Regions from separate parts of the Homo sapiens genome. Here all the other regions are linked to region 3. The links come from fine-mapping of genetic effects on gene expression. A gene starts in region 3. Each other region holds a variant in brackets. All regions are shown on one strand. Distances are between the middles of the regions. Region 1 has its middle 24 kb from the start of LINC01497. Region 2 overlaps LINC01497 (long intergenic non-protein coding RNA 1497). Region 3 holds the start of LINC01497 (long intergenic non-protein coding RNA 1497).

What was found. PIP is the estimated chance that this variant, and not a neighbour inherited with it, causes the effect.
Region 1: its variant is the best candidate, but not a certain one, in a credible set for the expression of LINC01497 in thyroid (GTEx, PIP 0.86).
Region 2: its variant is the best candidate, but not a certain one, in a credible set for the expression of LINC01497 in subcutaneous fat (FUSION, PIP 0.82).

The regions. Positions count from the first base shown.
Region 1 is chr17:69,935,258-69,939,507 of GRCh38, reverse strand. No RefSeq gene overlaps it. Among named protein-coding and RNA genes, the nearest start is that of LINC01497, 24 kb to the left of the region's middle. The variant C/T (reference allele first, on the strand shown) is at 2,238.
Region 2 is chr17:69,965,224-69,969,473 of GRCh38, reverse strand. All of the region lies in intron 2 of LINC01497 (long intergenic non-protein coding RNA 1497), which reads right to left. Among named protein-coding and RNA genes, the nearest start is that of LINC01497, 5.6 kb to the right of the region's middle. The variant TTG/G (reference allele first, on the strand shown) is at 1,799.
Region 3 is chr17:69,959,347-69,963,596 of GRCh38, reverse strand. It overlaps LINC01497 (long intergenic non-protein coding RNA 1497), which reads right to left and starts at 1,890. Exons shown (of 5, transcript NR_110875.1): 1 at 1,760-1,890.

The DNA of each region.
Region 1 (4,250 bases), 24 kb after region 3:
ACTGCACTCCAGCCTGAGCAGCAGAGAAAGACCCTGTCTCAAACAGAAAAAAAGAAAAAAGCACATGTATATAGTGCCCAAGCAAGTACCAAATTCTGTGCTAATCAGGGGATTCAACAGCAAATCTTATAGCGGAAAACAATCTTGAAAGTTATTGTAATTACTTACTAAGACAAGCCTGCTTTAATGCACATAGTGATTTATTCAATTGTTTAAATTTGACTTATTAGATTTTTAAAATATGTGACTTAACTCTACACCTTTGATATTTTATATAAAGTCAATGAATCAGAAAATAATAGTTCCTAAAATTTGTCCGGAATTTATGATGCTCTTACTTAATGGTCCATTAAATAATTACCTACTCTGTTCTCTAGCAGAGATTTCTATGGTAACAACCCTGCTCAGCAATTATATAGCTTATTCTTAAACACTCCCAATGTTGAAAAGTACATTTGCTTCCAAATCATCATCATGCAATTTTTGCAGGACTCAATGGGGCATGGAATCATTTAGGATTCTAATTAGAATAATATTTACATTCCTTTATCAATCCATATTCCAGGGCAATCTATAATTGTTAAATTATAATTGCTGATCGATATTTGTTTACCTATAATTGTTAAATGATTGCGATGTTCATCTCTTGCACCAGTCCTCGCCTCTGCCAAGTAGAATAAGCATCCAACTACTCATCTCTCCACTGTAGCTAGCAAAGTTCAATATGGGTAGGACTGCTAGAGGTTTTACCCTCTTCCCCAAAAAACCTTCAGTTTGAAAAAACCATCACAAATACTTTATGCCCAAATAATTATTCATTTCTCATTGACTCACATCTGCTTTCCGTAGTTGAGCTTTTTATTGAGTTTTATACTCTTGTATTCAACTGTTCAATGCACAATTTTGTGATTTTTATGAGAATCTCAGCATTATCTTTCCTACCCTATAACCCATTCTTCCTCATTCATTTTTATTTCAATCAATGGAACTAATGTTCCCTGAGCTGGAAACCAGATACCCATTGTAAGGCAGCCTTGTCCCTCAAGGGAACATTGAATCATAGTCCTGGTTATGCTACCTCCTAACTGCTTAACTATTTTTCAACTTCATCTTCATTCTTTTGCTCCAAGCTTGAGTTTGAGGACTACCACCCAACTGATCTCTTTGCCTCTGGCCTTGTTGACCTCAAATTGTCTTCCACACTCTTCAATAGCCACATCTAAGGAATGACCTTGATCATAACCTTTCCCTATCACCTACTATAGGATAAAACCAAGCTCCTTAGCATGACATAATAATTGCTTTCAGGTATTCCCCCTATGTATATTCCATTCATGTTTATGCCACTTCGTGTGCTACTTCCTGCCTTGAATTTATATCCAAATACCCAACAAATTTCAGTCTTTCCCATTCCTTGACACAAGCACACATATACATCTCACATATTTATTTGCAATATTTTTTCCTTTGCTTATGTCACTTTTAACTACAGTACTTTCTCACTTCTTTACTCTTTCTCTCTTTTTTGAGACAGGGTCTTGCTCTGTTGTCCAGGCTGAGTGCAGTGGCACAATCATGGCTCACTGCAGCCTCAATCTCCTGGGCTCAAGCAATCCTCTGGCCTCAACCTTCTGAGTAACTGGGACTACCGGCATGCACCACCACATTGCTTTTTTGTTGTTGTTTGTTTGTTTGTTTGTTTTTCATAGAGATGGGATCTTGCAATGTTGCCCAGATTGATCTCAAACTCCTGAGCTGCAGGGATCATCCTCACCTTCAGCTCATGCCTGTAATCCCTCCAAAGCACCGGGATTATAGGCATGAGTCACAACTTCTGGCCACTTTACTCTTATTAATCCTCTTTCCAGTTTTAATTCAAGTGCCATTTCCTCTAGGAAGCCTTCCTTGATTGTTCTAAGTTAAGTTAGGTAGCCCCTCTGTAGCATTTTGATATTTGACATTTATGCCTCTGCCACCTCCCTTTTTAGATTAAATGTACTTCTCAAGAATAAGGATGTTTCTTTTTTTTTTTTTTTCCTTGAGACACAGTCTTGCTCTGTCAGCCAGGCTACAGTGCAATGGTGCAATCATGGCTCACTGCAACCTCAAACTCCTGGGATCAAGCGATCATCCTGCCTCAGTTTTCTGAATAGCTGGTACTCTAGGTATAAGCCACCATGCCTACTAGACTCATTTTTTAAAAATATTTTTGTAGAGATGGGATATCACTATGTAGC[C/T]CATGCTGGAAGAATGAGATTATTTCTGATTTAATCTTTATCGTCTCCGAGCCTACCATGGTGCTTAGAGTAAAGACTCAGCAGATTTTTGTTATTGAGTGAAACAAGTTCTGCAACTCTTGATTATTTCTGGGGTAGTCATCCTTCTTGCCCAACCAGATTCTAACCAACCTGGTCTCTTATATTCCCAGGATTTACCTGGCCTGCCAGCCCCAGAGTGCTGGATACTGGAGGGGTCCTTTTCTGTATTCCAGCTTATGATCTTCTCTCTTTTCCATATCTCTAGAGTCTGGAAATTTCTGAAGATCTGTGCTTTGTTTTTGACAGAATTTCCCTCATGATCTCAGTTCATAACTGTCCCTCCAGTGCCATACACCATGGTTAGATGCTCTTTGTTTTCAACAGCTGCCCCAGTACTAGAGCTTCTGAGCCTTGCTGAGTTTTGTCTTCTTTTGTTCCTTGCCCTCTCTTCCCAATGCCATCAGAACTGCAGTCATTTTCCTGCCATCCCAGTAGTTTCCTGCTAAAGTCTATAGCTTGATTCTCTGCTCCTCTAGAATTGCCACGTGTATTAGTCCATTTTCACACTGCCGATAAAGACATCCCCGAGACTTGGTATGCCTTCCACATGGCTGGGGAGGCCTCACAATCATGGCAGAAGATGAAAGTCACGTCTCACATGGTGGCAGATGAGAGAAGAGAGCTTGTGCAGGGAAACTCCCCTTTATAAAACCATCAGATCTTGCGAGACTTATTCACTATCATGGGAATGGCATGGGAAAGACCCCCCCCGCCCCCCACCACGATTCATTTACCTCCCACCAGGTTCCTCTCACAACACATGGAAATTGTGGGAGTTACAATTCAAGATGAGATTTGGGTGGGACAAAACCAAACCATATCACCACGTGACTGTCACCACACTGCCACACATAGAGCTAATCCTGGATGCCATGCCTACTTAGGCACTCTTAGCTAAGAGTGAAAAACCACATCTTCTGTACCTGTCATCAACCAAACTTTTCCTAAAGTCGTGATAGCTTTTGGAGGCCTCTATCTTTTCTAACTTCCCACAGAAAACCTTCAGTATTGCCAAACAAATCTGCCTCAACCATAAATTACACTTAACATTATCTATATAACCCTGGCTAGATCAGCATGGGTAGGCACTTGAAACATAAATTGGTTTTACACCTGGATTTGCTCTGAGAGTATGGGCAGCTTTTTTTTTTTTTTTTTTTTTTTTTTGCAATCTGCTTGTATTCTACCTTACCAAGTTGCAGGGGTGTAAAACTTCTGTCACTTTTACTGACTAGTTTATCTGAGTGGTAATTAGGCTTCCTGTGGAAGTAGTTTCTCTGGTTTAGAGTCTGGGTGAAAGATGAATTTCCAACATTAATTAATCATCTGAACATGCTTGTTATAATATTATGAGCATTGTTAACAACCAGCCCCTATGGTAGGAAAAAATAACACCTTTTAGGACTAATCTATTTCTACCACAAGATATATCTTAAAAGGTGTATTGAAAATGTATTACTTATTTCCAAAATACCTGCAAAGAAATAACTTAATGTTTAATTCACATGTGAATAGGACTATTTCTTAGTATGAGATTACTCCCTCCTGATTCCAGACAATTTAGTTGTTGGTTAATAGTCTCTTTTTACTAGATCTTCAGTATTTCACCCTTATTAAAGAAAGAAATACCTAACATACATAATGAAAAGTTATGTGCTCTAGCAGCTTGTTTTTGTCCATTCCTCATTTCATATCCACCTGTAGCATGTGTTCTTTTGGGTAACTATGATCAACATTCTCTGATCGCTTTTGGTGAAACAGACTCTCACTAGGGAGACCAACTTGCTCCACACACAAGTTTTCATAGCTCAAGTTACCAAATAATTTTAATATCACAATTATGCAACACATTCTGTAATCTTGTCAGAGCCATGATATTTCACAGCCTGAAGAAACTCTCAAGATCACCTAACACACTATCCATTTCTTAGA
Region 2 (4,250 bases), 5.9 kb before region 3:
CATCAGGGGTCCAGGGGAGAAGCTTAAAAGAGGATGAGACAATAAAAGATTTTGTGGTTTGGTTTTGTTTTGTTTCTTAATTTTGACTAGGCTTTTGTACATCAGCTCTACTGGTAATCAGCTCTACTGATTAATTTATCAGAAGTTTTTGTCGGGGGGCAAGGATGGAAAATTCAACACAGAATTTAACAGGCTGTTGCAGAAGAAAAATACAATCATTTCACAATTTCATCCACTAAATTCAGCTTATTCAATCAACAAATACACACGTTTTCAAGTTGCATCCTAAAACAGTTTTACCAATTTATAACATCATCATCAGTGAAGGATAATCAGGCCGATGATACTCTTGCTAGCTTTAAACATTCTCTTTCTGTGTTTACCATAATTTAATATGTGAAATAACATCTTAACTTATGATACTTTCTTATTATTAGCATAATTAAACAGTTTCCATTAGCATATCTGCTATTTTTATTTGTTCATTTATACATTTACTATAACATCGACCAATAAATTATTGTTAATTATGCTAATTATTTTCTTATAAATTTGCATGAGGCATTAAGAGATGAACTCAATCCCCTATGTAATGTAACTATCACTGTAATATGTGGTTTGCATTTCAACAGAAAATAAGTTTTTACATTAGAAATTTTTTAATGTATTGAAATTTCAACTGTGAATTTTTTCTTTAATTTCAACTCTTAGGAAAGAAATGTCTATTTGTTTCTCTATTCTTTTGTCATGAGATTTCTAATGTTTAAATGTTTGATTTATTTTCCATCTAAAGTTTATTTGTATAAAGCTCAGAATCCGATCGGCATGAGTTGAGTATAACAAATTGGCTGGAAAAAGCCTGTTGTTTGTAGGATATTTCACTTTTCATCAATATTCATATTCTATTAATATTTTAAAGCCCAATTATTCTCACTCTCTAGCAAAGGCTGAAGTGACTTTTAACAATAGATATTCTTTCCAAAAAAGAAAAAAAATCCAAACAATTTCTCCCTTTGTAAGTATAAAACTGCCTAAGCTCAGCCTCTCTTTTTCTGCCACATCCAGCCTCTTCCTCCCACCCCCACCACCATTAGATTTTACACACCATCCATTGTCAGGGACGCAAACTCCTCTACAGTTTGTTAATGTCCAAGAAAGGCCATCACCTCTGAATCATTTTTTCCCCACACATAAATCCTTGAGCCAACAAAGAAAAGTGGTATTTTTCCATTTCCATAATTCCTGTTATTTTAAGTCTATCCCTTAACCAAAGTGGCTTTTTGTTTTTTTTTCCTTGATAACTCACAGGTTCAAATGTAAAAATTTATTATTACAAGGAACAATTATGAGGTTCAAAGCATACTGTGTGCATTCCATGCTCCTAGCTTCTGGTACTGATATACGGAATAAAATACTTGTGGTTGTCTACTTGCATGAAGTGGATGGGATCCAACCACTGGTGGTGAGAGGCTTAATGAATGTCTGCCTTCGTCAGACCCAACAGGGATCTAGCATCATGGGAGGTTGCCCAAGTGCCATACTGCAGGCATCTCAAAAACAAACTTTTGACCATTTAACTTATTCTTTCCAGTTACTCTTCAACGTCAACAATAACAACCACCAAAGAGGAAAAAATGGCTTTGCTTCTTTTCTTACTTTAAATATTGTTCTGGATTTTAAGATTTCAAGATATCTTCCCCAAAACATTGAATTAGACAAACCACTGACCTTTTTGAACACCTTTGGGTTTTGCTTCTTCAGGGCAGCATGTTCAGCACTTTTTTTTTTTTTTTTTTTT[TTG/G]AGACAAAGTCTCACTCTTGTTTCCCAGGCTGGAGTACAATGGCGCAATCTTGGCTCACTGCAACCTCCACCTCCCAGGTTCAAGCGATTCTTCTGCCTCAGCCTCTCCCAGGTAGCTGGGATTACAGGCGCCTGCCACCATGCCTGGCTAATTTTTGTATTTTTTAGTAGAGACAGGATTTCACCATGTTGGCCAGGCTGGTCTTGAACTCCTGACCTCAGGTCACCACCCGCCTGACCTCAGGTCACCGCCCGCCTCGGCTTCCCAAAGTGCTGAGATTACAGACATAAGCCACCGCGTCCAGCCATGTTCAGCATTTTGATAACTCCCTGCTCATAAAGTCTTCCTTATTTGATGAGATACTTCATTTACATAGTAAAACCAAACAAAAACAAAAACAAACCACAGCATTCTTAATAGTTACTATTTTCTTGCTGTCTCTGTTTTCTTTTGTTTTTAAATAAGACTAGACATAGTAGTTCCCTCTTCTGTGCTCCTATATAATGTTTATAACTGCATAATAGAACAAAAAAATGTGTTTTAGTTACTTGTGTGTATGTTTGCCTCTTCTGGAATACTGAGAGCTTTTTGAGGTTACAGATATATCCTGTGCTTTTTCTTTGCATAGCACATAACATAAAGTCCAATACATAATAGGTAGTCAATAATGAGCTTAAGTAAATGAATTGCCTCTGATTTGTGTATGATAGTTGGAATGCCTCAAGATTTTTAAATCGTCTGCACATTGATATCATACTATCAACAGATCTTTTGCTGTTAAATGTTCAGTAACTATCAATAATAGTTCATAATGCTCTAAGCAATACCGTCTAACAATATAGCTGAATTTGGCATACCCAGATACTTAGTTTTGTACTTTTTGGTGTGACAGAGACTGCACATATGCACTAAAATCCATTGCCATTTCCCACTGGGCACACACACACACACACACACACACACACACAAATACATTTTCTATCACACTTTGCAATTAAATATGGCCATATGACTTAATTGTGACCAACAGAATGTGGGCAGAAAAGATGTTAATCAATTTCAGGCCCATTTTATCACAATATCCCACAAGTGATCCTTGTTGTTTTTTTCCATTTGTCCCTGAAAAGGGAAGGATCCCAGAACCTATAATGCAGCCTTAGGATAGAGATCAGATTAAGGAAATAAGTATTCACAAATATTATTTCAGATAGCCTCATGGAGGCTGATAGATGAGGTTGGAACAATGAAGGTTCAGGTCATGTTGTTTCATGGCAAAACATATGGTAAAACCACTTCATACATTAAATAGAAAGGCACAACACACCTCATGAGCCTATAAGCCTGTAGTTTTTGGACGTGAGGACAAGAGATTGATATGAGAGTAACAGTGCCTATTTGCTACTATTGGCCTTTCTTAGCAATGTATTACAAGAAAGAGATGAGCACAGACAAAAACAGACTTATTTTGAAGCAGAAATTGAAATGGATATGTATCCAGAGATCAATAACTTTTAGAGTTAATAAACCTGAGTGCTTCTGCATCCTAATTAAGATAAATTGAAAAAGGCTCTGAATGACAACAATCAAATAAAATTATTGTTAAAAAACAGACAATTTAATATAAGGATTAGACTAAGGAAACAGTATTCAAAAATATTATTTCAGATAGCTTCAGGGAGGTTGGGAGTGGCTTAGAATGGTGTATATGAGGAAGCAAAAAATAAATCAGTCATGAGAATTATCACATTGAGAAAACTTCAAATGTAGTTATTGGCACATGTAATTGACTAGAAACAAGACAATTTCAATGTCTGTTAGTTTGGGGAAAATTGTTTCCCTAAGGATTCTATGAGCATGGACTGAAAGTATTGACTTCTTAAGCTTTAAGATTAGTGCTGGGTCCCCCAGCTTTTATCAGCACCAAACATAATCTCCAATCCCACTTCCTGAAGGTCATGGGAAAGATAGACAAAGAAGAATCTCTCAGAGGCTGGAATCAGTAACCATGGAGAACAGTGAAGAAAGGAGATTCTAGGGAGCATAATTTAGGAATAAACGAAAGATTTTTTCCCAGCCAAATAATAGGACCCTTAATATGTGCCTAACATGATTTCAAAATTGCTATGGTTCAGTAACAGCTGCATGCCTCTCATTTTTTCCTTTACCAAACAGGTGTCTAAAATGTTTTCCCGTATCTATGTATCTTCCCTGCATGGTATATGTATGCATGTGTGTGTTTGTTTGCATGTGTGTGTGTGTGTGTGTGTGTGTGTATAAATATATATCATTTGTAGGCTCAAAGAAGCCACTTCAATTCTGGTCTAGAGAGATGAGCATCACTCAAGGATGCTGGACTTTAAGTTTTCTGCAATGACTTGTTGGGACCTTTAGTTTTCCACCTTCAGAAAGGACACCCGTGTGTTCCATGTGTGGCAGGAAAAATGGAATA
Region 3 (4,250 bases):
TGGGGAATTGAGCTCTAGGATATCTAAGCTACAACAGAGATGGTTTATCTGAAAACAAAAATTACTTAACCACTCTAGCTTGTTTTCCTTTCTCCAAGATGAAAGGCATTAGAGTTATACTAACTGGCCTGGTAGATCTCTGTCTGTTCTAAGCTGCTGTAAAGCAGATGAGTCTATATTTCTCTAATGGCTCCCACGCAAATTAGTTTATTAGCAAATATAAATTTTTACATGTTTGACTTTTTCCCACTCTAATTGTTCTTATGACTGATATCCAACTAAGAAGAAATGTGACAATAGTGGGTAGTGACAGAATGACCATTTAGGTATTAAAATTCTTTCTTCACTTAATTGTCAACTGGTTAGGAGAAGTGGGATAACTTTCTCTTCTGACGGAGGGAAAAAATGACCAAGGTATTGTAAAGAAAGTTTAATCAGCAGACATCAGACTTGGTTGGAATCATACACATGGTAGTAACAGTCAAGCAAAGATGGAGGAAAGATAATAGACAGCATCTGGGAAATGGTACTGAAAAAGAAGTGGGACACAAAATCTCCATTAGCAGAGAGACAACAGTAGTCTTTTTGTGTGGTTTACTGTTATAAAATTCTGAATAGGAATTCTGTTTCACAGCTGTTAAAAGAGAATTGAAATACAACTGTGTCCAATAATTGAAAAGCAGCTGTTCATTCGCCATGTCTAAAAACAATTGTATAGGAGAAATTGGCTTGGCAGTACAGCAAAAAAAAAAAAAAAAAAAGTGTAATTATTTTTAATTGCCAAAGTGGGGAAGCAATCTGACAGTGGAATAGGACATTGTATGACATCATGAAATCTGCTTTTCTGAGAGTTGAAAAATGGTTAACATTTTCTCTGCCTGATGTGCTATCCGAAGGCAGGAAGGAGTCCCAGTTCATCCCTTATAGGCCCTTAGAGAGAGCATTGTGATGCCAGTTTCCTTTTTTTGTCTATTTTTCCTCCATATATGTACACATATTGTGCACATAACTGATATGTTTTCTTAAGACTTCCCTTTACAGTAACTATTTCCCACTCTGCTGCAGACTAACAAAAACAGAAAACTAAAGGGAAATCAGTGTGAGTCCTGAAAGTTGTGTCCTGCAGTAGGGATTCTGCATAAAACACAAAGAGAGGACACAAAATACGCCACTTTTCAAGTCACATTTACAAAAGGCTTCTCTTTTATCATAATTCACTCGCCAAAAATATAATTGGACAGTCCTTTAGCATTCTGCAGTATTTCTCAGCACCAGCAAAGAGACAGTAAGGAATTTTTCACCAAGAGCCATGAGTAAAGAGAGCTTGTAGCCTTCTACAAGGATCTGGTTGCTCTGAATGGTCAAGTAATCGTGGGAAGTTTATTGTCAATGCCCGGGTAGCAACTCTTTCAACTATGTGATGATCCGCTTTTTTGCTTGCTTTCTATTAAAAAACTGTATTTGATTCTGTGCAAATTCATAAACCAAACACAAAATTCAGGGGTTAAAGAAAACAGTTCTGTAAACAGATGAGACAGACATGCTAATACATTGGAAACATGCTATTTAAATTCAGACTAGTTAAACAGGATGCCCTTTTGTCACTGACCAAATTGTTAAATTGGTGCCTTGGCAAGAGCCTTTTGTACTCTGAAGATTCCCGGGATCCAAACCTCTGTGGTATTAAAACAAACAGAGTAAATATTTTCCTTGAAGTTTACATCCAAGATCTAAATATTTCCAAGCATGTCAAACTCACTTTTCTCCACCGCTCCCTGCAGGGTCCGTGTAGACTTCGGCTGCCAAAGAACCCAGTTGAACTTGCCTTGGGAGGGGCTCCATCCCTGAAGACAAGCAAAGCTCAGAGCCAGAAGCAGGGTGTCTTGCAGCTGTGCTGCTCTGCTTGGCAGAAGGAACTCACGCAGCAGCAGGTGTGCTATCTGCTGACTTCAACACACAGAGACGGGGAAGGCTCTGTCCTTGCTGCTTGCTCCCTAAGCTTGAATATCTGCCATTCCCTTTTACCTATTTGCAGAGAAGTGCCAAGAACCTACCCCGGAAAACCTGCATTTCTCTTCATTAGCTTTAAGTGTGCAAGTCAGCTTTCTAGCTACATAACTTCTAGCTACATAACTTAAGCTAGTTGCAACTGCAAAATAAAGTGATTCCTCTGCAGAATCTAGCAGAGAATATTAACAAACTCTGTTTCTTCTCTCTCTCCCTTGTTTCATATTGTTTTCCATCCAACATGCAGCTGAAGTTCTCTTAGAAAGAGACTACAAAGAACCACAATTGAGTACCACATCAGTATTTTTTTTGGACCTTGTATCTTGGGGACTTACTCTGAAAGTGTCCCAGCATAATCGCGAAGACAATGCTCTGCTCTTTCTTTTTTTTTTTTTTTGGTAGTTACTGACAGTAAATTTTCAAACTGCCATCTCAAATTCAGTGTAATTGAACTCAACCAGAAATAATGAATATAACTGTGGGTATCAATACCTTTGCCTTTAAACTCAGTGAGGTACTTCAAAGTACCTCATCCCACCTCTAAGAAATGCACTTACATTTACCTGGAGTTACCTAATATAAATGAGCCCAGTGCTGCACTGGCCAGGCCTTCCTTCACTGAAGAACTTGTTGCTCTTCAGCTGTTGGCAGATGGCCATAAGCTGGCTGCCCTTCCAAGGATTGCCTCTGTTACAGAGAGCAGCCTTGCCCAAGGACACATCCCTTTGCAGGGAGCCCACATCCAAAAACTGATCAAGGAGGGAGTGTAAGGGCCTGTTCATTGCAAATCAACCTGAGAAAATGCTGAAGGGTCATTCTAGCTCTAGAAATCTCTATGAGATTCCCTGAAGCTGTGATGGGTCTCCGTGGAAGCTCAACTTCTTTCTCTGCCCTGTCTGCTTCCTTCCCCTAACTCGAGAGGTGTTGAATCCAAGGATGCACCTTAATTAACATAACGAGCTCTTAATTTCATCTCAGATTCGGCTTCCCAGGAACCCTAATCTTTGCCACATAGGCTCCTACAAAGCCCATTTTGGGGGGAGTCATGTCTGCATTTGATGCAGGCATCCAACCAGTCAAGTATTTGATTAAATAGGTACAATGTATAAATTTATATCCATAGGAAAATGAGGAAGGAATATTTACTTCTATCTTGGTAGAATATATAGTCAAGTTAGAGAGTTAGCATAAATATATGAAAACGTAACTCATTATATAACAAATGATAAGTATCCAATGGTTACATGGCATTGGGACTTATCAGAAGGGAAGATTGGTTTTAGGACAAACTAGTTGCTGGTTCTTTCAGGAGCAGTAAGTTTATTGTAACCCATTATTATCTGCAGGCTGTTCTTCTATGAAAGTCATCCCATCAGGACATACAAGAGTCTTCACCCTAGAAATGAGATTGATTCTGAGTAGCCTTCCTGCTGCTCTGTACCTCATGGTGAAACTGTCAGACAATTCACAATGGCAGTAGGTAAAAAACATACTTCCATAAATACTTTTTCCATGAGATCTGCTATCGTTGACCCTCTTCTTCCTGGGTTGCTTAGGTTCCCAGGGACTCTCCACTTTCCCCCTTCAAACTCCAAAGCATTGACCCATAATGAAGGTGCCTTGCCCCTCTTCTGGCTGAGCTGGTTTGCAGGGTTGGCCCTGCCAATCCAAATCCCCAAAGCTGGGTCTTGCTCTCACCTGTCTTGACTTTGCCTTTCTTGACATCTTCATTGTTTCCATTTCTACTTCTAAGTTCTCATCTCCATTTTGCCCCTTCTAGATTCTATCAACCTGCTGTGATCTCCCATCTCCTATGTAGAACTAACAGAATTTGCTCTGCCTTTTTACAAAATCACAGTCCAACATGGAGGCCTTGGGCAAATCATTTAATCTCATTCATCTTCAGTAGTCTCATTTACAAAATGAGGATACTAATTCCTACCTCCTGTAGATGAGAATGATAATGATTAATGAACTGACTTGAAAGCAGGAGTCTCCTGGGAAGAAGTAAAAACAAAACATAAACATAAAATCCTTGCCAAAACCATTACCTAGATTTACTGTATACCAAGCACTGTGTAAAGTGTTATATCATAATATATAACCCTCCAGTAGAAATTCCAAGGAACTGTGACAAAAAGTTGTGTCACTTGGGAATTAAAATGTGATTTATCTTTGGTTACTCTGACTCTATTCCAGGTGTAATCTGAAACAACACCCTGCCCATTCTTGCACAAGATCTC